Homo sapiens: one gene and its partners. The protein of the gene in region 7 purifies or fractionates together with the protein of the main gene of each other region. This does not show direct contact. Each region holds a gene or a part of one and is shown on either strand. Other genes may lie near its edges. The genes, in order: DNAAF8, UBE2Q1, USP12, ATP2B2, RTN4, GNB4 and GPR161.

Region 1 (3,272 bases), on a different chromosome or scaffold from region 7:
GAGGAGGAGGAGGAGGAAGAGATGGCAGCTCTGGGAGACGCAGAGGGGGCATCTCCTTCCTCCCTGGGGCTACGGTAACCACCCAGGGGCCTCTCGCCACCTGCAGATGTCCCACCTCTGCTTTCTGCAGCAAGCCCTCCACCTGGCACATTTACCGCCTGTGGTGAGGTCTTGCTGCACCCACCGCACAGGGTGAGGGGGACGGCACAGCTTTCATCATCCTGCCCACGTCCACTGGGTCCCAGCAGTGGCAGCAGTGATGGGCTGCCTGAATTGCATTCTTGCTCTGAAATGGGAGCTGGGCTCATCTGCTTTTCTCCTGTTTCAGTAAGGAGGGCTGGGAGGGGCGGCCCCCACGGGGTTGAGTGAATTTGGTCTCATTGTGTCACAGGACCTGTACCGGGAAAAGCCAGCTTCTCCAGCAGCTCAGGGCCTTTCAGAAGGGGACAGCCCAGCCCGAGCTGCCTGCCAGCAAGGGGCCCGCGGGTGGGAGGGCTCAGGCCCCTGAAGACACAGCTGGATCACGAACTGGGAGGAAGCAACACATGAAGCTCTGTGCCAAGGGGCAGAGCGCCCAGGCTCGACTCCCAAGAGGCAGGCCCAGAGCCCTGGGGGATGTTCCTGAGCCAGGGGCAGCCAGGGAGGCCCTGATGCCTCCTCTGGAGCAACTATAGCTGCCTCAGGTAGTGGGATCCCAGGAGTGGGCAGGGGCGGGCTGACTTGCCATGGACCCTGGGCCCCGGTGTCCCCTTGTTGTTCCTGCATTTCCACTAGCAGGGGCATTCCAGAGGCAGGGACCCTCAGACTTTGGACTGTTGCCCACCCTGTTAGAGCTCAGTCACAGGTGCATGAACTTAGAGGAAGGATGCAGATACAAATCTGTATGTAACCTGTGACAACAGCTTTGGGATAAAGGGGCCTGGTCCTCTGAGGGAGATGGGCAGGGACAGCAGGAGGACGGGGTGCTGCTCTCTGCGGGACTCTGAGGCTCTTCATCTTTCTCCAGTTCTGCATTTTTTTAAACAGGCATCTATTATTTCCATCAATAAGGTCTTTTTAAAAACCAAGTAAAACGTATTTAGAGGATTTTAGGGTTGAAAGAGACCTAAGCCTTATTTTCTGGCTTCCTGCATACTTGCTATTTTGGGCACCTAAATTAACACACGACACACACATGCCTACCCACACAGATCTAATACACGTGGTTTTTTCTCTTTTCGAGACGCAGCAGCTGGGACTACAGGTGCACACCACCATGTCCAGCTAATTTTTTTTTTTTTTTTTTTTGTAGAGATGGGGTCTCACGGTGTTGCCCAGGTTGGTCTGGAACTCCTCTCAATCCTCCTGCCTAGGCCTTCCACAGTGCTGGGATTATAGCACTGTGAGCTGCCAGCCTGGCTTTTAATGAACTTTTTGAAAGAGGAGTAACGAGAATTTGCTTTCTCTTTCTCTTCTTTACCTAAGATAGAAAGGCACACATAGATTCTCAAGGCCTTTGACCTTTATGAATCTAGACAGAATACTGGAAACCCCTGGAAATGCTGTCCTGTGTAGAATGGAGCAGCGGCCTCACTTGTTGATCACCAGCAAAAACTGGGGACATCTGCTTGCCCCCTGCCAAGACCCGGCCCCTCCACAGGACAAGCCTGGTCTTCCTGGGTCCTGTTCCTTTGCCAGCACCGTCTTGCAGCCCCGTCTTCACGGGATGCTTTTGTAACTGCTGTGATCAGCCCTGACCTGGGCACCTGTTTGTCTCCCCAACCTTGTCTCCAGGATGTGTCCTGCTGTCTGCCCCGTGGGAAGAGCAGAGAAATCATCACCACCTTGGGCCCCACGGTGCCACGGGCTCAGGCAGCACAGTAGGGCGCCGGGCCTTTGGGACAGTGTCCCAGCTTCCCCTGGGGTTCACCCCTGGCTGCCAGGCCACTGAGGATGGGCAGGGGTCTCTTCTCATCAAGCCTTGTACCAGGCAAAAGACAGGCCCTGCTTGGCCGTGGTCACTGGCCGCCAAGATCAGGGCTACAGATGTCTGCTCTCTGGACCCCACGTGATCTGGCCACTGGGGACCCCCACCCGACCCCACTCCCAATGATGAGGGGCATTTTCATTGCAAGTCAAAGGCAAGACAGGCTTCCATAAAGTCCCAGGAGGTCCCTCCTGTAGGGCACAAGGCCAGGCTGCCTCCCAGCCCCCAGGCCCTCTCCCACCTACAGAGACCCTCCCCTGCCCCCTCCACTCCGGGGCCTGTGCCGCCAGAACCGGGCTCTGCCCCCATACGCTGCCCTCGCAGCCTGGCGGCCTCCGCTGTGGCTGCCTAGCTGTCAAGAGCAAAGGCTTTTTTTTTCTTCAACCCCATTTTCTTCCATTTCTCCCACCTTTTTAATGCCAGTAACCTCACTGAGAATGTTTTACAGTGATGGAAAATAAACTCTGTTCCAAGTTCAACTCTGAATTACTGTGTCTGTCAAGGCAAGGGGAGTGAGGTAGGAAGTCAGACCTGCGTCCAAAGCTGGCTCTGCCACCTGGGCAAGGTTTTCACGCTCCCAGTGCCCAGTTCCTCCACCCACAGAAGGAGAATCATGGCCGGGCGCGGTGGCTCACGCCTGTAATCCCAGCACTTTGGGAGGCCGAGGTGGGTGGATCACAAGGTCGGGAGTTCAAGACCAGCCTGACCAACATGGAGAAACCCCATCTCTACTAAAAATACAAAAATTAGCCAGGCGTAGTGGTGCGCACCTGTAATCCCAGCTACTCAGGAGGCTGAGGCAGGAGAATCACTTGAACCTGGGAGGTGGAGGTTGTGGTGAGCCAAGATCGTGCCTTGCACTCCAGCCTGGGTAATGAAGTGAGACTGTGTCTCAAAACAAAACAAAAAAAGGAGACTAATGGGAGTCCCCCCTCACTGGACTGCATGAGATAACATCACAGCACACGCAGGCACCTGGGACTCACAGCTCCTACAAAACTCTCCCATCACGTGAGTGCTGAGGATGACGCCCATGAGATGGGGCCAAGCAGCAGGCAGCGACCATGAGATGGGGCCAAGCAGCAGCCAGTGGGAGGCCACAGCCTCGGCAGGGGGAGGGAAGTGGGCAGACCCCAACCACACTCCCCCAGAGGCCGCCACCTCCAGCACAGGCCTGGATATGAGAGAGGGGCCTGGGGGCTCAGGCTGCGCTGGGGAGATGGGTGTCAGCAACGCTGGGTGCTTTGCTAGCTCCTGGAGTGTGGCCTGGCCACATCTAGCTGGGTACCTCATGCCCCATGAGAGA
Region 2 (4,092 bases), about 14 Mb from region 7:
TGAGAAAGGTTAGTCAGCTGTGCCTGACAAAATCTCCAAGTCTCTTCCCCGCCCTCTGCCAGAGGAGATGCCCTCTTCCGCATGCCAGCCACTCACCCTCCAGAGAGGACTGGAGACACAACCCTGACAAATGGTGGGTCAAAGGGAAAGTTATCCTGAGAGAGAGAGAGACGACAATCAGGGGAGGGAGGCCAGCATCCTCCACAGGACTGTCAGGCAGACTGGGCAGCCTAGGCCAGAGGGAGAGACTGGAAAAGAAAAGTCTTACTTTAAAGGAAAAGTTAAGTAGAATGAAGTCGGCTCCTTCTTTCTCTTTGAGGATCTGGAGATCGTTGTGCAAAGCGCTGTCCTGGTCAACTCTAAGAAGCAACAAGCCTGGGCTCAGATGCCTGGTTCCACCTCAGGAGCTTCATAAGGGCTCCCCTGCCCTGGCTGGCAGCAGACCACGAAACCACTGCCCACACCCGCTCCGGGACCCTGAATGAAAATGCTGGATGGGGCTGCCCTGGAGATCCCACCACAGTAGCCCCACTCACACTCCTCCTCAACTTCCTCTCCAATCCCAGAGTCCCCACTCACTTGAGGAGTTTGACATTCCAATCATACAGACTGTCATTCACGAGTTCGACTGCATAGTTTCCTGGAAGGAGGGAAAAAACAGGTGTTAGTAGAATGGTCCAGGTGGTGAGTGGTCTCTAATGCAGACCCCTTTCCCAGACTGAGAGAAAAAGATCAACAGCTCTAGGTTCACCACAGATGGACATGCAACCAAGCCACTGGCTTGAGGAGCTCCATTCTTGGCCTGAAAAGTTCATAAGCACTCCTGGACCCCAGAACCTCTTGGGCCCCTTGCCACCATACCCTTCTTTATGGGTGACTCTTGTGCAGGCCCCTCTCTGGGGCAAACTCACCGCCTTTGAAACTCTGTGATCGGTATATATCCCTGAGCTCCTTCATCAGCCGGTCAGTGGCCTGCACCGAGCCAGACACTGCACCCTGTGAGGGACGGATGACAGGAACATTCCTTGGTCGTGTGGTTTATAAACACACGTTAGACCTTAGGGGCAGTCTGGCAGCTTGCCCAGGATTTAAGAAAGGATTAGGCACAAAAAAGGAGTCTGCTCTCCATACTGAGATGCGATGGCCTACTACTTCCCAGCCATTTCCCACCAACCCCTTCACCAGCCTCTCTCTAGAAGGCACGTACATTTAAGTAATCTTGCCTCTGGTTCTTTTTAATTTTCTCTAGGATGGCCAAGTTTTCTTTTCCAATGCCATCATCTTCAGATTTCTTGCCCTCAGCTGGCTCTTCCTCTTTCATTTCATAGTGATCTAAGTCTTCTGTGTCCTGGAGGAGGTGTGGGGTGGGAGTGAAAAGAAAAGGAAAAAAACCGACACAGGTTAGAGAATGACCATCACCTTCCCAGTCCCATTTGGCGAAGAGCCAAAAGTTAAAGTGAAGCAGTCCATCTAGCAGTCTTATAAACGCAACGTGCTTTCCATTTTTAGAACAATTTCCAGCCCCATTCCCTCCACAGTCTAAATCTTCAGCTCTCAAGCTACAGCAAGGACTTCGGAAACGAGCAGAGCTGCAGCTGAGATCGAGGCAGGGACTTAGCCCTCTTGTTTCCTGGACTGACCCTGCTCCAACTGTTCCTAAAACTCCCTTGGCAGCAGAAACTCTTCCCTAATTCCTAGCAGAAATGACTTGGGCCTGACCCTGTGACTCAAAGCTCATGTTTCACCAGGTGACTATTGCACCCGGGAGTTCTCAGGGCCCCAAGCCTAAAGGAGAAACCTGAATCATTACATCTCCTCTCCTCGCTACAAATGCAAGGCATGAATCAGGTATGCAGAGGCACGCACTGCCAGATGGAAATGAGAAAGGATGTCCAGAGAGATATATGGAAGAGGTCAAGAACAGAATTAGCCCCTTATTCATCCTGCTCTAAGTGAGCAAGCAACTAGCTCACTGAGCATAGGGAAGGAGGAGAACCTATGTAGGGTTGAGCCCCTCAGCCAGATGTTGGGGGTGTGGCCCAGAGGGCTGTCCACTATCTGGGAGGAGTAAATTTCATGTCGTCAGCCCTTTGCCAGTCTCAAGAACCTTACACGGTTATAGAACCTGGGATATTAATCTAATGCTAGGAAATAAAAGTAATCAGAGTGATCTCCCCATTTCTGGCAGGACATACCTAATTACCACACCAGCAGGTAATGTCTACTGAGTGTTTATTACATGCCAGGTTCTGTCCTAGGTGCCGCAGATACTAGCTCATTTCATTCTTACCACCATCACTCATTATTCTATCATTATCCATTTTATAGATGCGGAAGCTGAGTCTAGTGAGGTCAATTATCATGCCCAAAGTCACAGCTCTTAGCAGAGCTAAGATTCAGTCAAGTTCTGTCTAGCTCTAAAGCTCAAATTCCTAACCATGATTTTATATTCTGTATGTTTTTAGAGAATATATCAGATAGATTGTTTAGCATTTATCATGTATCATCTGAAGCATTTTATATATAACACCTCATTTAATCTCAAGACAACCATATGCAGTAGGTATTATAATCCTACTTTATAGATAAGAAAACTGTAGCTTAGTGAGATTACATAAAATTCCTCAATTAGGATAGCTAGGATGCAAACACAGGTTTGTTGGACTCCAAAGCCATTTGAAATTAACTTACCCAGTATTTGGTTTGAACCGCGCTGCACCTGTCTTCAGTGGTTGGATATGGGTGCCCTGTCTCCTCTACTACACTGGCTATTCCTCCAGGTCAGTAAATCTGTCTTTATTCCTTTGATATTTTTCTCTCTCCAGTTTTAGACTGGAGTTCTGGATATGGGTACCAATGTTGCTGACTGCAAGAGCTTCCAGCCAATGCCACCTCAGGGGGCAAGCCTACCTCAGGCATCTCCTCATCTTCATCTTCTGAAGACACGTCTTCCTGTGTGCACTGCAGCAAGGAAGGGAAAGATGGAGATCAGAGCCCCAGTGGCTTGCTAGAATGCAGCCTCCAACCTACTCCCCTGAGCCCCCAGGTCTGGAAGTTGTGCGCCTGCCTGTAATGCTGCCAGTCTCTCCACCAGCCAGATCTGAGTGGAAGCAACAGCCCAGGGAATGGCTTTGCTACCAGCCCATTATTTTTCGCCTATCACTGCCAAAGAATAAAAGAAAAGCAAAATGGCTGTCTCTGTCACCCACCTCCTAAATCCTAGTTTAATTCTCCTAAGAACCCCTCCTTTACTTGATCTTCTTTAGACTGATATTGCATTCTTGGTTCTCACCAAGGGGCCTGGGTCCCCAGTGGCCACCAACTGTTATTGCTAAGATAATGGTAAAAATTCCCCCGCTCCCTTTCAACATCTGGGATGCTGCCCATGAGAATGAATTTTGATATCAGAGATGAAGCTACCAGTGCCCCATTTAGCAAAAGAAGATTCCCATCTGGAGAAGAACGAGGGTGAGAGTCATAAGACGTGTATGTTTTTGGGAGCCGGTGGGGATGGAGAGAAACTACTGATTTGTCTCAATTATTTACTGAGTACCCTGTGGGGCAACTCTGCACAACAGGGCCCGAGGCTCCTCAGCTGCTCACCTGCTCTGCTGGCAAGGGTTGATCCAGCATCTCCACATCTGGATGCTGAGGGAGGTTATAGAGTTTACACAGGTCGGAGATGATCCTCTTCAGATGCTGCAATAGCTACAGGTAGGGGAGCACAGAGACATCAAATCCTTCCCCACTCCGATCTGGATAAGTGCATGGATGAGCTCTTAGTTTGGGCCCCACACCAATAACTAGTTCTCTAAGCCTTATGGGCCACGTGGCTGTGGGAATGAGTCTCCTGATGGACCAATCCCAGGGCCGATGCAGGGTCTCCCTCTGGCTTCAGTAAGCAACTCCCCCGAGAGGTCATCCCCTAAATGTTTAGCTGTGTACCGTCCACTTTTCAGGATCCCTTTCACAGGATGCCTTTGTGGCATGGGCCTCATAAGAACAAAATGTACCCCTACCCTGTGGCCCCCTCACCAGAGTATTCCCTTTCTTTATGTCCACCAGCCTCTCCAAGACAGCAGCCAAGTTAGG
Region 3 (4,092 bases), on a different chromosome or scaffold from region 7:
TCAGTTAAAAGGAATCTGTCTGTATTCTTAATGTAATGTTGCTTATTGACAATGAATACCTGAGGTGATAGAAAGATACTTACTGTAGCTTGAACTGTTTGATTTTCTTTCAGTTTAGGAGGCCATAGAACCATGTTGTGGAAATTATGTCTTATGACATAATCTCATAGGATCATACAGATCAGGGAGGCATATTAATTCGTTTTTCCTTTTTCTACGATTACCTTTAGTATCCATTGTTGGGATAAAAACTAAAGCATACAGTGTACCCTCAAGGAGGGGAAAAAATCCCACTTGCTGGACACTTTGTAAAGATGAAGCTTGAAAATTGTTACACCCAGGCTGGAGTGCAGTGGCCCAATCTCAGCTCACTGTAGCCTCGACTTCCTGGGCTCAAGCAATCCTTCCATCTAAGCCTCATAAGTAGCAAGGACCACGAGCACGTGCCACCACACCCAGCTAATTTTTAAATTTTTATTTTTTGTAGAGACAGGGGTCTTACTGTGTTGCTCAGGCTGGTCTTGAACTCCTGGGCTCAAGCAGTCTTTCCACCTTGGCCTCTCAAAGTTCTGGGATTACAGGTGTGAGCCATTATGCCCGGCCAGTCATGTTCTTTATAGCATTTTCCCTATTCAGTACAGAATCCAATTTAGAGGGGGACATTGCATTTAGTTGTTTCTTTAGCCTTCTTTAACCTGAAACATTTACATGGTCTTTTTTTTTTTGAGAATATGCCTCCCTCACCTTTTTAAAATCAGATGTTCTCATATTTAGTTTCTCTGATGTTTCTTCCTAACTAGATGCAGGTTATGCATTCATGGCTAATAATAATATATCATTCATGTTGTGTTTTTCTCGGGGCATCACGTCTGTAGGCACACAATATCCATCTGCCTCTCATTGGTGAAATTAATTTTTGATCACCCAGTCAAGGTGGTGGTGTTTCTCCATTTGATTTATTTATTTGGAGACAGGTTCTTGCTCTGTCGCCCAGGCTTTAGTGCAGTGACACTGTTATAGATCATTATAGCCCCAAGACTCCTGGGCTCAAGTGATCCTCCTGCCTCAGCCTTCTGAGTAACTAGGACTACAGTGCATGCCATCACCCCCAGCTAGTTTTTAAACTTTTTTGAGACAGAGTCTTGCTGTGTTACCCAGGCTGGTCTTGAACTCCTGCCCTCAAGTAACCCACCTGCCTCAGCCTCCCAGAGTGTTGGGATTACAGACATGATCCACCGTGCTGGGCCAGTTTCTCCACTTTATGATGACTTTTTTTTTTTTTTTTAAATCCCCTTGCAATTAGTAGGCAGTCTGTGGGGAGACACAAATACCTCCCTCCTCATCAAAATCTCACCCAAGATTTAGCATGCATTTATGATTTTGCCTGATCTCATCTTTACTGTGACAGTTGTGCTGCTAGTTTTTAATAACATTGGAAAATAGGGTCCACAAGCAAGAAAGCTAAGAGTCCTGTAAAGTCTCCATAGTTTTGCCTTTTCCAGAATATTGTGTAGTTGAAATCATATAGTATGCAGCCTGTTTGGATTAGCTTCTTCCACTTAGCAATATGCATTTAAGGTTCTTCCATGTCTTTTTAAGGCTTGATAACTTATTTCCTTTATTTTTGGCTGAGCAACATTTCCACTGTAAGGATGTGCTGCAGTTTTTAAAGTTCATTCACTTACTGAAGGACGTCTTGGTTGCTTCCAAGTTTTGCCAATTATGAATAAAGCTGCTATAAACATTTGTGTGCAGGTTTTTGTGTGGATGTGAGTTTTTACTTCCTTTGTGTAAATATCAAGGAGCAGGATCACTGGATTGTATGGTAAGAGTATACTTAGTTTGATAAGAAACCAACATTCTGTCTTCCACAGTGGCTGTACGATTTTTCCTTCTTACCAGCAGTGAATGAGAGTTCTTGTTTCTCCACATCCTTGCTGACATTTGGTGTTGTCAGTTGGATTTTGGCCATTCTAATAAGTGTGTAGTGTTATCTCATGTTAATTTGCAAGGCCCTAATGACATATGATGTTGATCATCTTTTTGTCTGCTTATTTATCATCTATATCTCTTTAGTGATGTGTCCAGATCTTTTGTCCATTTTTTAATCAGGCTGTTTTTCTTTGAGTATTGTCGAATTTTAAGTGGGTTTTTTTTTTCGGGTATAATTTTGGCTACTAGTTCATAATCAGGTGGGTCTTTGGCAAATATTTTCTCCCAGTCCGTGACTTGTTTTTCATTCTTTTAACACTGTTTTTGGCAGAGTGGAAGTTTTTTTTTTTTGAGATGGAGTTTCGCTCTCGTTGCCCAGGCTGGAGCGCAGTGGCTCACCGCAACCTCTGCCTCCTGGGTTCAAGTGGTTCTCTTGTGTCAGCCTCCCTAGTAGCCAGGATTACAGGCACGCGCCACCACGCCCGGCTAATTTTGTAATTTTAATAGAGACAGGGTTTCTCCATGTTGGTCAGGCTGGTCTTGAACTCCCGACCTCAAGTGATCCACCCACCTTGGCCTCCTAAAGTGCTGGAATTACAGGCGTGAGCCACCGGGCCTGGCTGGCAGAGCAGAAGTTTTTAATGTTTTAATTATCAGTTTTTAATTTTAATAAAGTCCAACTTTTTCTTTCATGCATTATACTTTTGGTGTTGTATCTAAAAAGTCATCCATAAACTAAAGGTCCCTTAGAATTTCTCCTATGTTATCTAGGAATTATATAGTTTTTCATTTTATATTTAAGTCTATGATCCTTTTTGAGTTAATTTCTGTATAAGGTATTAGAAAGTTTATTCTGGGTTAATTTTTTTGCATGTGGATGTCCATCTGCTCCAGCATCATTTGTTTAAAAGACAATTCTTTCTCTGTTGAATTGCCTTTGCTCCTTTGTCAAAGATGAGTTGACTCTTATTTGTGTGAGTGTATTTCTGGTCACTGTCTTCTGTCCTGTTGGTCCGTATATCTGTTCTTTCCCCACTACCACACTGTCTTGATTACCGTAGCTTTAGAGTAAGTCTTAAAGTCAGGTAGTCTCAGTCCTCTGACTTTGTTCTTCTTCAATATTTTGTTGGCTATTCTGGGTCTTTTGCCTCTCCATGTAAACTTTAGAATCAAGTTCGTCGATATCCACAAAATAACTTGCTGGGATTTTGATAAGGATTTTGCTGAACCTATAGATGAAGTTGGGAAAAAAATGATATCTTGACAAAGTTGAGTCTTCTTATCTAAGTACATGCACTGTCTCCCCTTATTTACCACTTTTTTTGCTATCTTTCATTGGAGTTTGGTAGTTCTTCCTCATATCAATACCATGCGTGTTTTGTTAGATTTATATTTAAGTATTCATTTTGGGGGGTGCTAAGCACCAACTATGCCAGGTAGAAGATGGTAGAAGATGAGTAAGACATAAGCCTCTGATCACAAGATACTCCTATGGTAATGAAGACTGGCAAAGCAGTGTTCAGGCAGTTCCAGTACAGTGTGTTATCGTATGTGTATGCACAGGATGCCATGCCAGCCAGAGAATAGTAGACCTAACCCAGGTGGGAGTGGGAAGGATTTGGACAGGTAAAGGACCAGCTTCCTGGAGGAGCTCATGCTTGTATTTTAGAAATGCAATTGGTAATGTCTCAGGTGGTAGGAAGCTGGTGTCTATAACACCCTTTTCTGGTGTTCTCTATGAGGGTTCCTTTTCAGTCTCATTCCTTGGCTTCTCTTTTTCCATTCTTTAAATGTGGGTGTTCCCCAGGGTTTCATTGTCGGTTGCTTCTCACTCTGAATTGGGAGGATCATGATCATGTTCCATTTTATTATCACATGTGCTGATGAGTCTCAACTCCAGATCTCCACCCTAGACTTCTTCCCTGAGTTTTAGACTGGGATCTCCCCATATTGTGCATGACATGACATTAGGACATATTAGTCCAATAGCAGCCAGATGTCTTTACAACCACTTTGAAAAGTGGAATACTGTCCTACTTGATGACCGCTTGGCACCAACTCAATCGCAAATATAAACGTAGTAACTCATGCACCCAGGTGATCTAGAGCATCCTTGTGTCTAGGTTTTTACATGATCATAAAAGGAACATTTCAAATGAA
Region 4 (4,092 bases), on a different chromosome or scaffold from region 7:
GGTCCGCAGGAGACCACACCAAAGCCTGGGGGAGGGCGGAGACCCCCCACAGAGGCTCGGGGGCCTTAGGGTACTCCAGGTTGTCCCTGTCAGAACAGCCGGGGATGAGGCACCCATCGATGGAGCACCTGCTGGGGGCCAGGAACTGCATCACAGAGCTCAGGTGCAGGCACTGGCCCCAGGGGAGTCGAGGACATGAGGCTCAGAGAGGTGGCGTGACTTGTTCAAGGTCACCCAGCAAATGGGAGCTGTCAGGCTCACAGCCTGGCCCTCACTGCAGGAGGCAGGAGAGGGAATCCTCAAGAGAAGGCAGGGCCCTTGGCCACCACGAGGGCAGAGGGAGGCAGGGAGGGGCAGGCCAGGGCCCAAGGGGGATCAGGCATCCAGGTGAGGACAAAGAGCCAGTGGGGGCCCTGGGGCCCTGGCTCTGGACTGGAGTGTGGAGTGCCTTAGGAGGTGCTAGGTGGGGATAACTGGAGGGAGTCGGGGATCTTGCTCACTGGGAAGGTCACAGAGGAGTCTGGCCAGATACCACGACTGGGTCTGGAGCAGCCCTATGCACTGAGCCTGGCAGGCAGGCCCCAGATGTCTGCAGACTGACTGCTTCTTCATGCAGCTCCATGAGGTGGGAACTGTGATGATCCTCATTTTACAGAGGCAGAAACTGAGGCTCAGAGGATGGACTGGCCAGGGACCTGCCATTGTTCTTGCAGTCTCCTGATACTCCCCACAGGGGCTGACCAGCCTGGCCAGGGAGGCAAGAATGGGTCTCCCTTAGCCCCAGGGGATCCCCAAGGCCCAACACTCCCAGTAGCCACCTGGGCAGACAAGCCCATGCCCACAGGAGCCCCCAGAGGCCCAGAGTGCAGCACTGCCCCAAGAGCTGTGTGGCGCTGGAACACTGCTCCCCTCTGTTGCTTCCTGCGCTGGGGGAATATAGGTGGCAGCTCCGGCTACCCCAGCCCTGAGAATCGGAGCCTTGGGAGGGTGGCTGGGGGCTTCCTTTTGCTCAGAAGGGCCCTCTTTCCTGGCCTGTGGATGAGACACTCCCTCTAGTGGCAGCTTGAGGAACACTCCTGCGGCCCCAGCAACTTGGAAACCAGAAGGTCTTGATGCCAGATAGGGAAACTGAGATTCTGAGACCACTATCAGTTTGCCTGAGGTCTTTGATTGAGTTGGTGGCGAGGCCATGCAGCATTGATAAGAAGACGGGCACACTTGACCCTGAGGTATATGGAATTAGAGAAAGCCCGGGGTGGGGAGGACGGGGGCAAGGGGAGCGAGGCTGAGGCAAGGAGGAGGTGAGAGAGAAAGCCAGGAGCAGGGGCTGTGATGAAACCTGGGAGGTGATGAGTGGAAGGGATGCAGGTATATGGGGCTTTGGGAGAGAACAGAGGTGGGAAGAGCATCGGGTTTGGGCTGTTGAGCTTACAGGGTCTGGGGGCTTCCTGGAGGAGGTGTTCCACAGGCCACTAGACGGATGTAACTAAAGCCACAGGACGAGGAGGAGAATGGGGCTGAGGCAGGAACACAGATTTAAAAGGAAGGGAGGACGACGACCAGGAGAGTGGGGTCAGGATTACAAGTGGGAGTGCAGGGGCGAGGTCAGTGACATCTGGCCGAGAAGAGGTCCTGCAACTCGTGGCACAGAAGGTGCTGGTGACGTGGGCGGAGGGCATTCTGGGAACGTGGAGGGGCCAAAGTCTGGCTGCTGTGGACAAGATACGTGGGGGTGTGAGGAAGGATGGGGACAGAAGAACCAGCTCCTCTCAGCCAAAGAGACAGGTCTGAAAGGGTCCCTCCCAGAACCTGGACAGTGGTGACCTAAAAGTGGTGAGGTCCTTGACAGTTTTAGTTGCTTTTGCTATTCCTCATTTGCCATATTTCCTACCTTGAAATGTATTAATTTTTGAGTCATAGATACGCACAATAATTTTTTAAGGTAAGGCGGGATAAGAGGGGAGGAGACATTGGGGGGGTGGGGGACGGGCACTGTTTGTAGGATAGAAAGCCCGAGGGGGAGGAGGCAGTGGGGGGAGGAGGTAGGAGCCCATGCCGGAGGCGGTGGGAATGGTCTTGGCCTCAGCCAGGAGAGACCCCCTCCTCGGGGGCTGGAGGGGAGAGGGGAAGATGGTGAGATGCAGCTGAATTTACCAGAAGGCAGGGAGCTGGTGGCCATTGGGCCTGGGGGGACTCACTTATCTCCTGGCAGGGAAGATGTGGCTGAGGTGGGCAGGTCTGCACTGTTCTCCAGAGAAGGCATCAGAGAACAACTCCATGCCTGCTGGGGAGCCAAGGGGCAGGTCGGACTCCAGCCTCCAGCAGGAGCCTGCGGACACTACACCATGAGCCCGCCCAGCACTTCACAGCAGCAGGTGGGCGCACAGGTGACAGCCCTCTCCTGCCCGTCCCCAGGACTCCCCTCTGAAGGCCGTGCAGATGCTCTGGGTGAACCTCATCATGGACACGTTTGCCTCGCTGGCACTGGCCACTGAGCCGCCCACGGAGACCCTGCTGCTGAGGAAGCCGTACGGCCGCAACAAGCCGCTCATCTCCAGGACCATGATGAAGAACATCCTGGGCCATGCTGTCTACCAGCTTGCCCTCATCTTCACCCTGCTCTTTGTTGGTGAGCGCCTCGCCCACCCACGCCTCTCCCAGGCGGGGTCATCACCTTCTGGGTGCACCATGGCTCTCACCCAGCATTCTCGAGTCACAACCCCCTCCTGTTTTGCTAATGGGGAAATTGAGGCCCAGGGAGGTCAAGTAAGTTGCCCAAGGTCACACCAGCAAGTCTTGAACAGGGCCTGGCCCTGTCCCAGCTCTGGCTAACCCTAAAGCCATCAGTGGCTTTCTCCACTGGTGACAGCTCCTGGCAACAAGTACAGACCGTGCAAGGCCCTGACCGGGTGCTGAAGCACTGCATGGCAGCCCCAGAGGCACCTGAGGCTGGGAGGGGAGTGACTCACCCCTTCTCTGACCCATTCCAGCACCTTATCCTGGCCCCGTGGAAGGGACCCTCAGCAAGGCTTCCTGGGGCAGGGCATACACGCTCACACCACCACCGACTCTCACAATGCTTCCACTTGGGCTGCCTGGTTGGGTCTTCCACTCAGTGAGGCAAGCACATTTGCCTCCACCCCACATTACAAACGAGGGCACCAAGGCTCAGAGAGGTGAGGTGACTTGCCCAAGGGCACACAGCCAGTCTGAGGAAGAGTCTGGGCACAGAACCAGGTCTGGCTGGGGCCAAGACTGGCCTGGTTTCCACAGATGCTTCGGAGGCAATCCCAACAAAGCCTATCCCCAGGTCACAGATGGGGAAACAGAGGCCCAGAGAGGGGAAGGGTCTGGCCCGCAGTCCCACATGGAATCAGGGCCAGTTCTCTCCTTACAGGAGCCTCCCGGAGCTGGCCTTTCACTTGTCCTCAAAGCCCAGAGTGTGATGGAGGTGGGCATGGATCCATTCCTCAAAGGCAGTTAGTTGCCTTTTATAAATTTTGAAAGTAGTGTGTTGTCAGGACACATTTTACTGTTGTAAAACTTATCATGAAAAAGCTTAGAGGAAGCCACTTATATGCAGAACTAGAAGAGACTCAGAGGAGGTGGAGGGGTTGGAGAGGAGAGGAGAGCGGGGGTCCTGGTCGGCTTGCTGGCTTGACCACTTGAGCAGCACCTACCCTGGGTAGTCTTGGGACATCTCACACCCAGAAAACTCCACAAGCCTCCTGGCACCACTTTACTCAGCTGTGCAAAAGGACACAGGACTTGGCCAGGTGCAGTGGCTCATGCCTGTAATCCCAGCACTTTGGGAGGCCGAGGCGGGTGGATCACTTGAGGTCAGGAATTCGAGACCAGCATGGCCAACATGGAGAAACCCCATCTCTACTAAAAATACAAAAATTAGCCGGGCGTGATGGTGCGCACCTGTAATCCCAGCTACTTGAGAGGCTAAAGCAGGAGAATCACTTGAACCCAGGAGGCGGGTGTTGCAGTGAGCTGAGATCACGCCACTGTCCTCCAGCCTGGGCAACAACGAGACTCCATCTCAAAAACAAAACAAAACAAAACAAAAAGGATACAGGACTGCAT
Region 5 (4,092 bases), on a different chromosome or scaffold from region 7:
AAGCATCTTTGGTAACCTCTTCAGAAGAGAATAAATAAAAGTAAATTCCCTTATTTTCTGAGATCAAAACCTCTAGTAGCTTAAAAAAAAAAAGTTGTAACACTTTTAGGTCACCTCCATCTACGGTTGTCAGGGCACTGAGATAAATGAACTCAATAATGGCACCTTCCATTTAGGCGAGTTTATAAATCAACCTACAAAGTTGGGGAGAAAGAACACGTAGGCAGACCTGGAATCCTTAAGTAAGCTTCTCTCTTTCCACAAAAGCAGTTCACAGATCTGTAAATATGTCCTGTAAGGCCAATCACAAAACTCCTCTGGTTTTAAGAGCAGAAAATTCTTTACAACTAAGGGCCTGTATTTTTTCCTTCATCTGCTACCTATACCTCTCATAAGTACAACCTCTATTCATCTTTCTTGTCCTCTTACTCAGCCCTAGGCCTAGTTAAAAAAAAAAAGGAATATATTAATTTTTTTCTTAATATTGAACTTCCAAGAGACCACCAATATAAGCAGCAACTCCAAACTCTTGAACAACAAAACTTTATAAACTTTCTGTATCTGTGGTAACAATTCCATCAATGAGAAAAACAAGCTATTAAAGAAATAATTATTTTTGAAAAGTAGAGGGCCACCTATGTAAAGAGACTGCTTTAAAAAAAAAAAATCCAGTATTTGGCAGCTATAGCTCCTAATACAAGAGTACAGAGAATATTTCTTTCTTTCTCAACACAATTTTTTTTTTTTTTTGGAAATGAAAAAGCAGGAAGACTTAGCTTTCTTTCTCAGTCAATTATCAATTGAAAAGAGAGAGCCAAATACCTGTATAATTCAGTATGTTACAAGGAGGCTAGAATATTTATTTTTAAAAGTCTCTAGTTCACCTAATTATATGCTAAATTTTTTTTAAATACATGTTAATAAAAACCACGTGTTTATGGAAAAATACACAATATCAACACCGAATGTATTTCAATTCTCCCCAAAATTAATCCATAAATGTAATGCAACCTACTAAAACTCCAACAGAGGGAGAGGGGACAAGATAAAAAAAATTTTAAGATGAAGTAGAAAATTATACACACATAAGATAGCCAAGAAAAATATTTATGGAAAAGCCGTTTAGCTAGTATTTAAAAATTATAGCACAACAGTCTGATACTTCTGTGTGAACTGACAGATAAATGGAAAAGCAGAGGAAATATTTCACCCATACTACAAGAATATGACAAAAATGGTACTTCAAAGTGGTTAAGAAGGATAATTCAAAATAAAAGGTATTGGAACAAATGGGAAATAATCTTGAAATATAAAATTATTTCACTACTTCACTCTCTAGAACAAAACAAACTGCAAATAAATCAAATAATTAAATGTTAAAATGAAATCATAAAAAGTATAAAAGTACTTACTAGGAGTAAACATGGGGGAAAATTTTTATGATCCTCAAGAAGGATTTTCTAAGGATTACATAAAACTCAATGACTTTTTTCACTTTTATGACTCAAAGTCATAAAAGAAAATGATAAATCTGACTACATAAAAATTTCTAAACAGAAAAACATACCATATGGTCAAAATACAAATAACAAATCAATAAAAAGTTTTCAAGACATATGACAAAAGGCTAGTTTCCTTACAATGCAGATTAAGTGAATCTACATACATGAGACCAAAAACCCAAAAGAATAGGCAAAAGCTGTGATCAGAAAAAATTTGACACCTAAGCCTATGAAAAATGACTCAAATTTAAAAGAACAATTTGCTAAACAATGTATTAGTTCACTAATATACTGTGTTGGTAAAGATATAAGGGAAAAGGTACCTTAACAGGTTGGTGGGAATAAAGGTTGGAACCATTCTTTGAATGACACTTTGGCATTAGCTACCAACATTTTAAATGCAAATATCCTTTGAAGCAGTAATTCTACTTGCACAGATTTATCCTACAACATATATAATGGCATGTATTCCCAAAGAAGTGTATACAAGAGTGTTCACAGAAATAGTATTTGTAAGAGAAAAAACTAAGTATCAACCTAAATAACCATCAATAAGGGACTGATTAAATAAAATATGGTACATCCCCAGAGTCCTCTGCATCTATTTTTGTGGAAAATAAAGTGAAAAGGATATACATGTATAAATAAATATTTATCCACAGATTATCTCTAAACAGATACTCAAGAAACTACTAACAGAGGGTGGATCTACAGAAGACAATTTGTGGAAATCTGGGTAACAGGTAGAAAGAGTTACTTTTCTGTGTATTCTTGTAGTACTGTTTGGAATTGTTACCTTGTATACATAAATAAATAAATGCTTTCGTAAGATTTGGGATTTTTATTGAGAGAAGATATTATAGTAATTCTAGAACTATACAGAATATGAAGATCAGCATCTTTCTCATTCAACAAACTGAGTGCCTATCACATCTAAGGCACTGCAATGCAGACACAATGCATACAGTCCTTTTCCTCAAAGAAAAAGGTCACAGCACCTTTCCTCAAGGAGTACACTGTCTGGTGGAGGAAAGAAATCAGTAACCATACCATTACCTTATATAGAATGATATATACTATGAAGAGGTAAGAACAGAATATTATGGAAACACGTGATGAAAGCAACTTAAAAATCAATGATCATCATTCCAAGAAACATAAATATCAATAGCTTAAATATGAAATTATCAACTCCTCCTTTGGGGTTAAAAAGGATGATGATGGCATTAGTCTGAGAAAATCTTAGCATCAGTAAAGCTGGGTCTCATCATTTTGCATACCTATGTCCTGCACTAGCTATCCACAAAGGTCACATTCATTCAAACACTACTGAGAACTATGGTTTTACCATTACAGTTCCCATCCCTAGTGCTGTCATCCTCAGAAGAACCTGATCCCTTTAGAAACAGGAACAAAAAGTCTCAAAGAATGTACCATAAGTATAGTATATCTGCAACATTTACTTCTATTTATTTAAGGGTTCCAGGGAAGAATCAAGAAATAGCCATTCAGTTTATACTTTTATCCTGGGCTAGCAAAGTACCTTAAAAAGGAACCATTAAATTGAGGCTTTGAATCAAGTTATTCTAATAAGTTGCTTGAAGGTATATTATGAAAATAAATGGCGGGGCACAGTGGCTCACACCTGTAATTTCAACACTTTCAGAAGTCGAGGTGGGAGAACTGCTTGAGCCCAGGAGTTCAAGACCAACCTGGCCAACATAGTAAGACCCCATCTTTAAAAAAATAAAAATAAGGCTGGGAGCAGTGGCTCACACCTGTAATCCCAGAATTGTGGGACACCGAGGCAGGTGGGTCACCTGAGGTCAGGAGTTCAAGACCAGCCTGGCCAACATGGTGAAACCCCGTCTCTACTAAGAATACAAAAATTAGCCAGGTGTGGTGGCACATGCCTGTGGTCCCAGCTACTCGGGAGGCTGAGGCAGGAGAATTGCTGGAACCTAGGAGGTGGAGGTTGCAGTGAGCCAAGATTGCGCCACTGCACTCCAGCCTGGGCTACAGAGCAAGACTCCACCTCAAAAATAAAATAAAATAAAAATAAAAATAAAAATATATTTAGGCTGGGTGTGGTGGCTCACGCCTGTAAACCCAGCACTTCGAGAAGACTGCTTGACCTCAGGAATTTGAGCCCAGCCTGGGCAACATGGCGAAACCCTATCTGCACGAAAAACACAAAAATTAGCCGGGCGTGGTGGTACGTGCCTGTGGTCCCAGCTAGTTGGGAGGCTGAGGTGGCAGGATCACTTGAGCCCAGAAGATGAGGCTGCAGTGAGCCAAGACTGCACCACTATACTTTAGCCTGGGTGAAAGAGCAAGACCCTGTCTCCAAAATATAAATACATAAATATAAAAGTTTTTTTAAAAAATTTTAAAAATAGCCAGCATGGTGGTGTGCACCTGTAGTCTCAGCTACCTGGGGGGCTGAAGTGGGAGGACTGCTTAAGCCCAGGAGGTCAAGGGTATAGTGAGCCATAATCATGCCACTGCACTCCAGCCTGAGCGACAGAGTAAGACTCTGTCTCAAAAGAAACAAACAAACAAACAAACAAACAAAAAAACTTGCCAGGCA
Region 6 (4,092 bases), on a different chromosome or scaffold from region 7:
ATGCCTGTAATCCCAGCTACTGAGGAGACTGAGGCAGGAGAAGCACTTGAACCCAGGAGGCAGAAGTTGTAGTGAGCTGAGATTGTACCACTGCACTCCAGCCTGGGTGACAGAGCAAGACTCTGTCTCAAAAATAACAAAAAAAAGTAATTAAAAGAAACCAACACATCCTGTTGAATTTAAGAGTATCAAAAGATGGGAGAAAATTCAAGATGAAAACGCAGATTACCTAGATATAAAAGATTAAAAACCAAGCTAACCTCACACTTTTTCACAATAGACACTGCTGAAAGGCTCCTGAACAGTATCTGCCAAGTGTTAAGGGAGAAATACTGTGACCCAATAATTTTAAGTATCAGAGATCATAGTCATGATGTGGGGAGGAAATACACTACATATAATACAGGATAAGAGATTAAGACCAAGAATAATCACTTAAGGCATTACACGTAAATGATTACTGCTATTAAAAGATACAGAATAAACTGAACTATAATGTTGTATGCAAGAAACACACCTAAAACAAAATGACCCAGGAAGGCTAAATGTAACAGTAAGAGAGTGGGTAAGTCATAAACTGGAAGGAAATCTGTAGTAATATTACTATATTACTATTAACCGAAGTAGAATTGGAGCAAAAACTATAAGATGAGAGAAGTTTTATCTTAATGAAAGGGACAGTAGTGATGCTATAACATTGAAATTCATAAAACAAAAGCCATTAAAAATTCAAGGACCCAAAACACCATTGTGTAGGAGACTTTAGTAGACAACTTGGAAATACTGATATCTTAAGAAGGCACGAAATAAGATGCTGAGGATTTGAATAGTGTTATTTAATAATGTTGACTTGAGAGTATATTGTAAATTGCACCATATTTGGGTTTTACCAAATACACAGTATATTACCTTTCTAAAATCTGAAAAATTCTGAATTCTGAAAAAGAACTGTCCCGAGGGGTCCTTATAACCCTATAAGGATTGTGGACCTTTTATCTCCTTGCCATTCGTTCTACAACAGCCACACACACACACATATATATTCTATAAATATTAGTACTTGCTTTAAATGTTTCAACATGACATATGGAGAACCAGAGCCAGTATTTGTTGAATACTTGCTGTGTTCTGAACAATGGGCTGTGTACTTTGCATATGTTATTTAATTCAGTCTTAATCACCACTTTGAAATGGAATCTGAGGCTCAAAATATTTAAGAATCTTTAGTGCCCAACATCGCTCACCTGGTAGGTAGCCAAGTTGGAATATTAATCTAGATTTGTCTATTATTACATTGCCTCCTATGATTGTGCATACATCTGTAGAATAAATGTTTGTTACTTTCCTGTCTAGTTTTTCCCAAATGGATATGCCTTCGCCACTGGCTCTGATGATGCCACTTGCCGGCTCTTTGACCTTCGTGCAGATCAAGAGTTATTATTGTATTCTCATGACAATATCATCTGTGGAATCACTTCTGTAGCCTTCTCAAAAAGTGGGCGTCTCTTGTTGGCTGGTTACGATGACTTTAATTGTAATGTATGGGACACGCTAAAAGGAGATCGTGCAGGTTAGTAAATAAGTCCACATTAGGTTCTGATTTTCAGGAAGCGTGAAGAGGTTCCCATCAGTTGTGTTCTAGGCCTCCATGGACATCTTGGAGTTGTGGAAAGTGGTAACCCGATGGTTCTCATCATGTTCTTTGTTGTTACCTTTTGTTTGTGGTTATAATCCATAAGCCATATTTACACTTTTGCTTTCTGAAGAATCACACTGAGGTCTGTAATATTTTCTTATTTGGTAGACTTCAGAATTAAAGATGGATAGTGAATGTGATTCAGTGTGGTCTTTTAGAAATCACACTTTTCTTATCACCTGACAGGAAACATTGTAACTGCTGGTTTTCTTCCTTCTGAAGCAGATCTTGTATGGGACAGGACATAGACCTGTCGCTTCCCTTAGCCCCATACCCTGAGTCCTCCTCTGCAGCTTCTACAAGATGACAATACACATTAAGCCATACTGGGGACTGTCATTAATAACAAGTCATACAGAGTAATTTTTAGCTATTTTTAAAAATCAAAATTATACTTAAAGGAATCCAGTTGTCCTATATAGCTTGTTACCAAAACACAGCAGTTGCTTCATCCCCAACCCATAGTTTCTGCTCCCCAAAGTAACTACATTTAGTAATTTACCTACCCCTCCTCTCTCCCCGCCCCCTTTGTTTTGTTTTGTTGGGACAGGGTCTCTTTATGTTGCTAAGGTTGGTTTCTTCCCGCCTCAGCCTCTGGAGTAGCTGGGATTACAGGCTTGAATCACCTCACCTGGCTTACTTACATATCTCTAAATAACATGCCTGTATTGCTGTTACTTGTTTAAAAAAATAAAAATTCAGGTGTTATCTGTTGTTGACCTATTATCATGGATGAGAAGGGTTGGGTTTTAAGCTGCTCCTGCCGTAGCCATGTTCTTCCCAACCAGTTTTTCCCATATGATAGATTTTGTTTAGAACCACATTCACTGTTTACATAATTCCGACTTTTTAAAAAGTCATTTGCTGCTGAGCCATGAGATGTGTTATGACTTCTTTTGCCATGCAGCTTTTTTGTATTTTCTAGAGTTAATTTTTTGGTTTATATTCTTAGTTTCTATGTGCTTCTCACTAATGAATCTTCACACTTTATGCCAGTTTTGATGTGTCTCGGAGCGGATCCATTTTCGTTCATTGTGCTGGGTATTTAGTGAGCCTTTTTGATCCGGAAACTCATTACCCTATAGAACAGGGACATTTGGGGGTGGGGGCTTGTTGAATTTTATTTCTTCTCTATTATCATCATTCCCTTTTTCTAGATCTCCCATTATGTTGAAAATGGGCTTCCTGGACTGATCCTTTTGACTTTTTTTGTTTTTTAAGAATTTTTATTTTACTTAACTTTATTTTATTTTATTTTATTTTTTTGAGACGGAGTCTTGCTCTGTTGCCCAGGCTGGAGTGCAGTGGCATGATCTTGGCTCACTGCAGCCTCTGCCTCCCAGGTTCCAGCGATTCTCCTGCCTCAGCCTCCCGAGTAGACTAGCTGGGATTACAAGTGCACACCACCACGCCCAGCTAATTTTTGTATTTTCAGTAGAGGTGGAGTTTCACCATGTTGGTCAGGCTGGTCTCGAACTCCTGACCTCAGGTGATCTGCCCACCTCAGCCTCCCAAAGTGCTGGGATTACAGGCGTGAGCCACTGCGCCCGGCCTGACTTTTTAATTATATTTTTTATTTTCCATCTTTTTTGCTTTATCTTCTGGGAGGAAACCTCACCTCAGGTTTCCACCCTTCTGTTAAGTTTTGGTTTTCATTTTCGCTACCATCTTTTTAACTTAAGAGCTATTATTAGTGAAAGAATTTTTTTTTTAAGTTTCTTCTTCAAGCATCATCTTTTGTGTTTCCAAGTTTTTTTTTTCTTCATTTTTGGGGTTTCCTGTCTTTATTTTTAGAATATTTCCTTAAAAGTGTTAATTCTTATTCATACTTAAGAGCGAGGCACTAAAACCATTTGAAGCTCTGGGCACGTGGCTGGTGTGCTGACTCGGCCTCCATTTACTCTAGGCTGGCCGTTCACTGAGGAAGCTTTGCTGTGTCTGCCTTTCTGCCTTTCTTCCTTTTTCCATCTTCCACTTTCCTCCATGAAGTGTATAAACTGGCTGCCAGTTTGAGGGCTGATTTCAAGAGAAAACCTGAGGGACCACAACATTTAGCTAGTAAACTTTATTCCCCATTTCAGCACAGTTTTATCAATCGCATCTGTGCCTGTTTTCTTCCAGTCAGGAGACCCTGTTTTACCCTTTCCTCTGAGTGAGTCTCTGGCCTTACGCCACAGCGCAGGATGATCTGTCACCTGACTGCAGAGTGGAGGAAGGGGACACCTGGGGGCTCTTACTGATTGATGAACACTTTCCAGCACAATCTTATTTTACTCTGCCTTTGCCCCTACCTGTTCCAGAGATACCTGGTTCTACCTAGTAGGGACACTTTTGGAGAATCTGCAGTGTAATTTTGTTACTTGGCTTACTATTCATTTTGAACTCAGTATTTTGGG
Region 7 (4,674 bases):
TGGTGACCATATTGAGCACACTGAAAAAGACCTAAAAAGACAGACATTTACAGTGGTTATCTCAAAGGTGGGGAGAAGGAGTAGAGAAGAGGTGGAGGGGAATTTAATTTATTTTCCTATATGTTACTGTGTTTTAAAATATTTACAGCTCTTAGTTTTGAAAAATTACTATATTCCATGAATGCTTTACATTATTTACCTAAGGTCACAAGTTTATAAGGGGCAGGGCTGGGAGGTAGGCTGTCTGACTTCAGATAGTGCTCTTAACACAGTGTTCTCTCACCCATTGCTTGAGTATAAAACAAACACAAACTAAAATAAAATTGAAATATACCTCCTCATGCTTTACCCCTGGCCAACTGCAAATTCCTTCCTTTATGCTCCAGCACTCCCTGAACATATTTGCCATGAATGCTATCCTCTCCCCTGCTGAGCACATAAAATGTGCAAGGAAATAGATTAAAACTAGTTGTAAGCCTTTTCTCTTGGTGTAGAAACAGAGTCATAGACGAGTACTGGGTGAATGAATGAAGTATGGAGTCATAAAGTCAATCCCTCCTCCAAACTCCAGGTAGCACTGATAGCTATCTCTAGTTCTGTTGATGTTTTTTGTTCTTATAGAAAAACAGCAAGAAGACACCATTTCTCCCCTGCTGTCATGCTTTACTGCATCTCAGAATGACAGTCAGTGCTTCCCAAGGTCTCACACAGAAGACGCAAGCAGCCTGCACACATAATTTGGTTAAACTGCACGCACATTAAAAAAAATGTTTTGAATCAGTTGCTATCTTTAAAAATATATGAAGCTTGTTTTCCGTAAAAATTTACAGTTTCCCCCAAAACTAAGATCAGGCAACCATGTGCTGGAGCCCCACCGCACCTGCAGCTGCCCCCTTACTGGAGACAGGCTTAGCAGCACACAGCTCCCACCCAGCCCTCCTGTCCACCCGCCTCCTGCACTCAGGCTTCCTGACTGGTCCCTGCTGGCAGTGGAGTTTACACCACAGAACTGTACCTCCTCTTGCTGACATTTAGGTCAGTTCCAGTTCAGCCCATTCTGTCTTCCTCGGAACCCAAACAGAGAGCTCGCAGCCCTCTGACCACACAGTGCTCCTTCACCTCTCAGAGGACGCACAGTGCACCAGGCTGCAACACAAAGAGAACGGTTCGGATATCGTTGCGGCCTTGGATTAGTTCCAAAATGTCAAGCGGGCCTCTTAATGAGGGGTCTCTATTCTTGATGTTATGGCAGTGGAGCTACAGGGCAGGGAGAAGCCCTGAGTTAAAGAACTCACCTGTGTGCCATCAGGAAACCACGTGAAAAGCACTACCAAGGCAAAAGATCTGAGTTCAATCTGGGCTGCTTACCTAGCTGGGCAAGAATGCTTCATCTCTCCTGAGCCTCAGTTTCCTCACCTATCAAATGGGCTAGTAGAGCTTCACAAGGTTGTTGTGTGAATGAAAAAGTGTACATGAAAGTGCTTGTAAGCACCTGACAAGTATAAAATAAGACGGGTGTGGAGGAGGACCGGAAGAGAGGTGCTCTGAAAGAAGTAACAGAAATGGGTGCCATGCATTCCAGTTACAGTTGAAGAGCCTCTGTCTCTATGACCTGAGGTCCCTCCCACCTCCTCTTTCTGCCCTGAGGGCCTGAAAAATGCCTCTCTTCACTTGCTCCCAGTGGCTGCAGTAAAATAGATTATAAGGGAAAACCGCCTATTCCCCGAAGCAGTAGCTCTCCAGAACTCATCTGGAGGTCCAGGTCACTAGGGGAGAAGAAGCCAGGCTGAATCCACGCCTGGCTCCACGGAGGAGCCACAAGGATGGCCATCCTCCCCCAGCCCCTAGGACGCTGAGACAGGCTCACCGGAGGTTATCGGTGTCTCCATTGGACAATCAAGGAACTGAGGTTCTTTCCCTCCAAAACCACACACCTCCTCACGGCTTCACCGGGAGGTGGATCAAATGACCTGCTCTATGAAAGCACTTTGCAAAAGGGATGAAAGTACAATAACAAGCAAAAATAGCCTCCAAGATGTGATATAAAGCGATGCCAATGCGCAGCTATGTGGTTACTGGTGAGCAGACCTCCGGGAAGCACAGGACACACCCCACTTACCCAACAGACGTTCTCATCCCATATGCCTTTGTCCAAAGGTTGCACGGGGGTTAAGCTTGGCCCAGAAGGCGCCGAGGGCTGGTCGAGTTCTCCCCTTTCCAAGAACCAGCCGAATCTCCCTCCCGCAGATCTGAGGGGCAGAGCCGCCCATCCGGCGGCGCCGGGCCACTTCTGGGCGCGCCACCCGCCGCCCGCCCAGGCTCGGGGAGACAGCGCCCTGAGTCCCGGCTGGGAGAAGGCTGCTCACCTGGTCCTCACGGATTCCAGCCGAGGGGCGTGACCGCTTCTCCCCACACCCTTTGCCCTGAGCGGGACGTGGAGTCTCTTGGCCCCAGGGGGCGCGGCCCGCATCGGCAGAGTCCCGGGCACGCACCTACGCCCTCCCATCCAGCGGACTGTTTAGGGGCTTCGGGCGGCGCCGGAGAAACGGGGCGGGCTGCACCCAGCAGAATGGGGTGGGCCTCTCAGAAGCCCCAGGCCGCAGGGGAGGGGCGCGCCCCCAACATCTTCCCACAAAGAGCTCCAGCTCTCCAAAGCAAGGCGCAGTGCGGGCGGAGGACAGCCCTGACCTCCGAGAGGGGCGCGGGGAGAAAGGGAGCGCCGTGGGGGCGGGGACCCTTCCCGGCCCGCGCCCTGAGCCCTCAGCCTCGCACAATGAGTTTAGCCTGGCTCCATCCGGACCGCCCTCTCCGCCCGGGCCCGCGCCCGCGCCCCACGCCGGGTGCTCACCGAGGAGCGGCCGCCGCGGCAGCTCAGGCCCCGGCCCAGCCGCCTCCCCGCCTCGGCCACCGCCGCCGCCGCTTCCTTCCTCCCCGCCGCGCTCCGGGACTGGAGGTTTCGGGTTTCAGCCCACCGAGCCCCGCTTCGCTCCTCCCGCGGGCCAGCCACCAGCACGCGGACCCGGGCGGGCGCAGGCCAAGTAACTTTGCGGCGCCCGCGCCCCGCCCCGCCCCCCCCACGCCCGGCCGGGCCCCTCCGGCCCCCGGAGCCCCGAGCCGCCTCCCCGCGCCCCGCACTGCCCCGCCCCGCCCAGCTCCCGGCGCCCCTCCCCACCCGCGCCCCTTCCTTCGCGTCCGTCCGCCCGCCCTCCCGGCTGCTTCTTTCCCATTTCTTCCCACGAACAGCCTCGGCTGCTGCTCTTTGTCTCGCCCTTACCCTCTCGGCTCGCCCCACTTTTCTCCTGAAAACCTTTGTGGTGCCTAACTCAGGCCTTCCCTGTTCCCGTTCCTCCGCCCCAGTTCCAGCCGCTGGGACGTCGCCTTTTCCATGTCTCTCTCCATCACACAGACACTTTCAGATTCTTCCCGCAGGCTCCGCACAGTCCCATTCTCCTCCTCCAGTCCCGCCGTGGACGATCCTGGTATCGCCTTTGCTGCTCACCTTTCATTCATCCAGCCGACGGGCACGAGCATCCATCTGCCTTCTGCCAGGCTCTGTCCCGGGCTCTGTTAATACCACAGTGAATTCGTCCCGAAGCCAGCCCCGGGGAGTGGGGAGTGGACGTAAACAGGTCTTCACACTGCTGCCCTGCACTCCCTCGGAACCAAAAGGCCAGGGAGCAGTCATCACAAAACAAAGAGCGGGCGCTGTCAGCTCGGGGGACGGAACAGTTCCTTCTCAGAATGTTTGTTTTCCCTTCCTCACTCCCCACTTTGCCTGCCTGTCTCCAGACTCCTACGTTTTCTATGCAGCAGTCTTAATAAGGGGATGAAAAGTTGAAGCACAGAGTAGAACTGCTAAAAAGGGAAAGAAGGAAGGACAAACAGGGCAGCAAAATAATCAGGTAAGAAGTTACAAAGCCCAGTTCACTAAACTCCAGAAAAAAAAAAACAAACCCTGATGCTGTGCTTAGAGCAGGATTCACATTCCTCTGAAATCCATCTGCTTTGATAAATACATTAATTATTCCCTTGTCTACAGATTGACACTGTGGGAGATGCTTCCTTAATATTATTGGGCCACTGAGGCACAATTTAGAACAGTAATTTACTGTCTGGCACCTGCCAAACACCCACATTGCTCTGGGGACAAATGGGATAATGGGGAGAAAAAAGTAAATGGGTGCCTTAATATTCCTATGGGATAAATGCTTTATTTGGTCAAAAACTGGAAGCTGACGCTCCACTTAAGAGTCTAGGTCACGCGGCAAGCCAGACACTTGAAGGAGCTTAAAGCTTTCTGTTCTTAATAGTATTTTAGACACTTATTTTGAAATCCCTGATATTTATTTAATTTACACTGACTCAGATGTCGGCTAAGCTCTATGAGCCTGAGGGAGTGAGTTAACCTTCCTCTCAGCTTATTCATATATAAAATGGGGATACTCATACTTTCCTATCTGTAGAGTTGAAAAGGTTAAATGAGGTCATGTAAGTAAATCATCCAGTGACATAGAATCTGAGAACTAAACCCTTTTGAAAATTGGTATTCACGAAAGGTCTGAAAATATATGCCACAGACTGGCATGGTGAGAATGAGAATAAAAAATAAACAGTTACGGCTGTTGTGGCTCCATACCCATCCATGATGCGAAAGATGTCCTTCATACTGAGCAA

What was found.
Region 1: the proteins of GPR161 (region 7) and DNAAF8 purify together in Homo sapiens (affinity purification with mass spectrometry; one large-scale study listed by BioGRID and IntAct). This does not show direct contact.
Region 2: the proteins of GPR161 (region 7) and UBE2Q1 purify together in Homo sapiens (affinity purification with mass spectrometry; one large-scale study listed by BioGRID and IntAct). This does not show direct contact.
Region 3: the proteins of GPR161 (region 7) and USP12 purify together in Homo sapiens (affinity purification with mass spectrometry; 2 studies listed by BioGRID and IntAct, with this or other methods). This does not show direct contact.
Region 4: the proteins of GPR161 (region 7) and ATP2B2 purify together in Homo sapiens (affinity purification with mass spectrometry; 2 studies listed by BioGRID and IntAct, with this or other methods). This does not show direct contact.
Region 5: the proteins of GPR161 (region 7) and RTN4 purify together in Homo sapiens (affinity purification with mass spectrometry; 2 studies listed by BioGRID and IntAct, with this or other methods). This does not show direct contact.
Region 6: the proteins of GPR161 (region 7) and GNB4 purify together in Homo sapiens (affinity purification with mass spectrometry; one large-scale study listed by BioGRID and IntAct). This does not show direct contact.

What each region holds. Positions count from the first base shown.
Region 1 is NC_000016.10:4,746,952-4,750,223, forward strand, and holds the end of DNAAF8 (dynein axonemal assembly factor 8), read left to right. Parts: coding exon 1-74; intron 75-391; coding exon 392-674; 3' UTR 675-683; intron 684-1,287; exon of another isoform or gene 1,288-1,773; 3' UTR 1,774-2,445; downstream 2,446-3,272. UniProt on the Homo sapiens protein: In cyliated cells, dynein axonemal particle-specific protein required for deployment of ODA to the axoneme. Interacts with outer dynein arm (ODA) subunits.
Region 2 is NC_000001.11:154,551,825-154,555,916, forward strand, and holds part of UBE2Q1 (ubiquitin-conjugating enzyme E2 Q1), read right to left. Parts: coding exon 4,036-4,092; intron 3,709-4,035; coding exon 3,604-3,708; intron 3,205-3,603; exon of another isoform or gene 2,962-3,204; coding exon 2,911-2,961; exon of another isoform or gene 2,826-2,910; intron 1,849-2,825; exon of another isoform or gene 1,785-1,848; intron 1,349-1,784; coding exon 1,208-1,348; intron 997-1,207; coding exon 912-996; intron 641-911; coding exon 580-640; intron 360-579; coding exon 269-359; intron 156-268; coding exon 97-155; intron 1-96. UniProt on the Homo sapiens protein: Catalyzes the covalent attachment of ubiquitin to other proteins. May be involved in hormonal homeostasis in females. Involved in regulation of B4GALT1 cell surface expression, B4GALT1-mediated cell adhesion to laminin and embryoid body formation.
Region 3 is NC_000013.11:27,091,377-27,095,468, reverse strand, and holds part of USP12 (ubiquitin carboxyl-terminal hydrolase 12), read left to right. Parts: intron 1-4,092. UniProt on the Homo sapiens protein: Deubiquitinating enzyme that plays various roles in the regulation of the immune response and inflammation.
Region 4 is NC_000003.12:10,341,289-10,345,380, reverse strand, and holds part of ATP2B2 (plasma membrane calcium-transporting ATPase 2), read left to right. Parts: intron 1-2,415; coding exon 2,416-2,629; intron 2,630-4,092. UniProt on the Homo sapiens protein: ATP-driven Ca(2+) ion pump involved in the maintenance of basal intracellular Ca(2+) levels in specialized cells of cerebellar circuit and vestibular and cochlear systems.
Region 5 is NC_000002.12:55,040,346-55,044,437, forward strand, and holds part of RTN4 (reticulon-4), read right to left. Parts: intron 1-4,092. UniProt on the Homo sapiens protein: Required to induce the formation and stabilization of endoplasmic reticulum (ER) tubules. They regulate membrane morphogenesis in the ER by promoting tubular ER production.
Region 6 is NC_000003.12:179,402,668-179,406,759, reverse strand, and holds part of GNB4 (guanine nucleotide-binding protein subunit beta-4), read left to right. Parts: intron 1-1,353; coding exon 1,354-1,570; intron 1,571-4,092. UniProt on the Homo sapiens protein: Guanine nucleotide-binding proteins (G proteins) are involved as a modulator or transducer in various transmembrane signaling systems.
Region 7 is NC_000001.11:168,133,891-168,138,564, forward strand, and holds the start of GPR161 (G-protein coupled receptor 161), read right to left. Parts: upstream 3,041-4,674; 5' UTR 2,849-3,040; exon of another isoform or gene 2,507-2,848; coding exon of another isoform or gene 2,367-2,506; exon of another isoform or gene 2,120-2,366; intron 1,147-2,119; exon of another isoform or gene 1,032-1,146; coding exon of another isoform or gene 1,016-1,031; intron 32-1,015; exon of another isoform or gene 1-31. UniProt on the Homo sapiens protein: Key negative regulator of Shh signaling, which promotes the processing of GLI3 into GLI3R during neural tube development.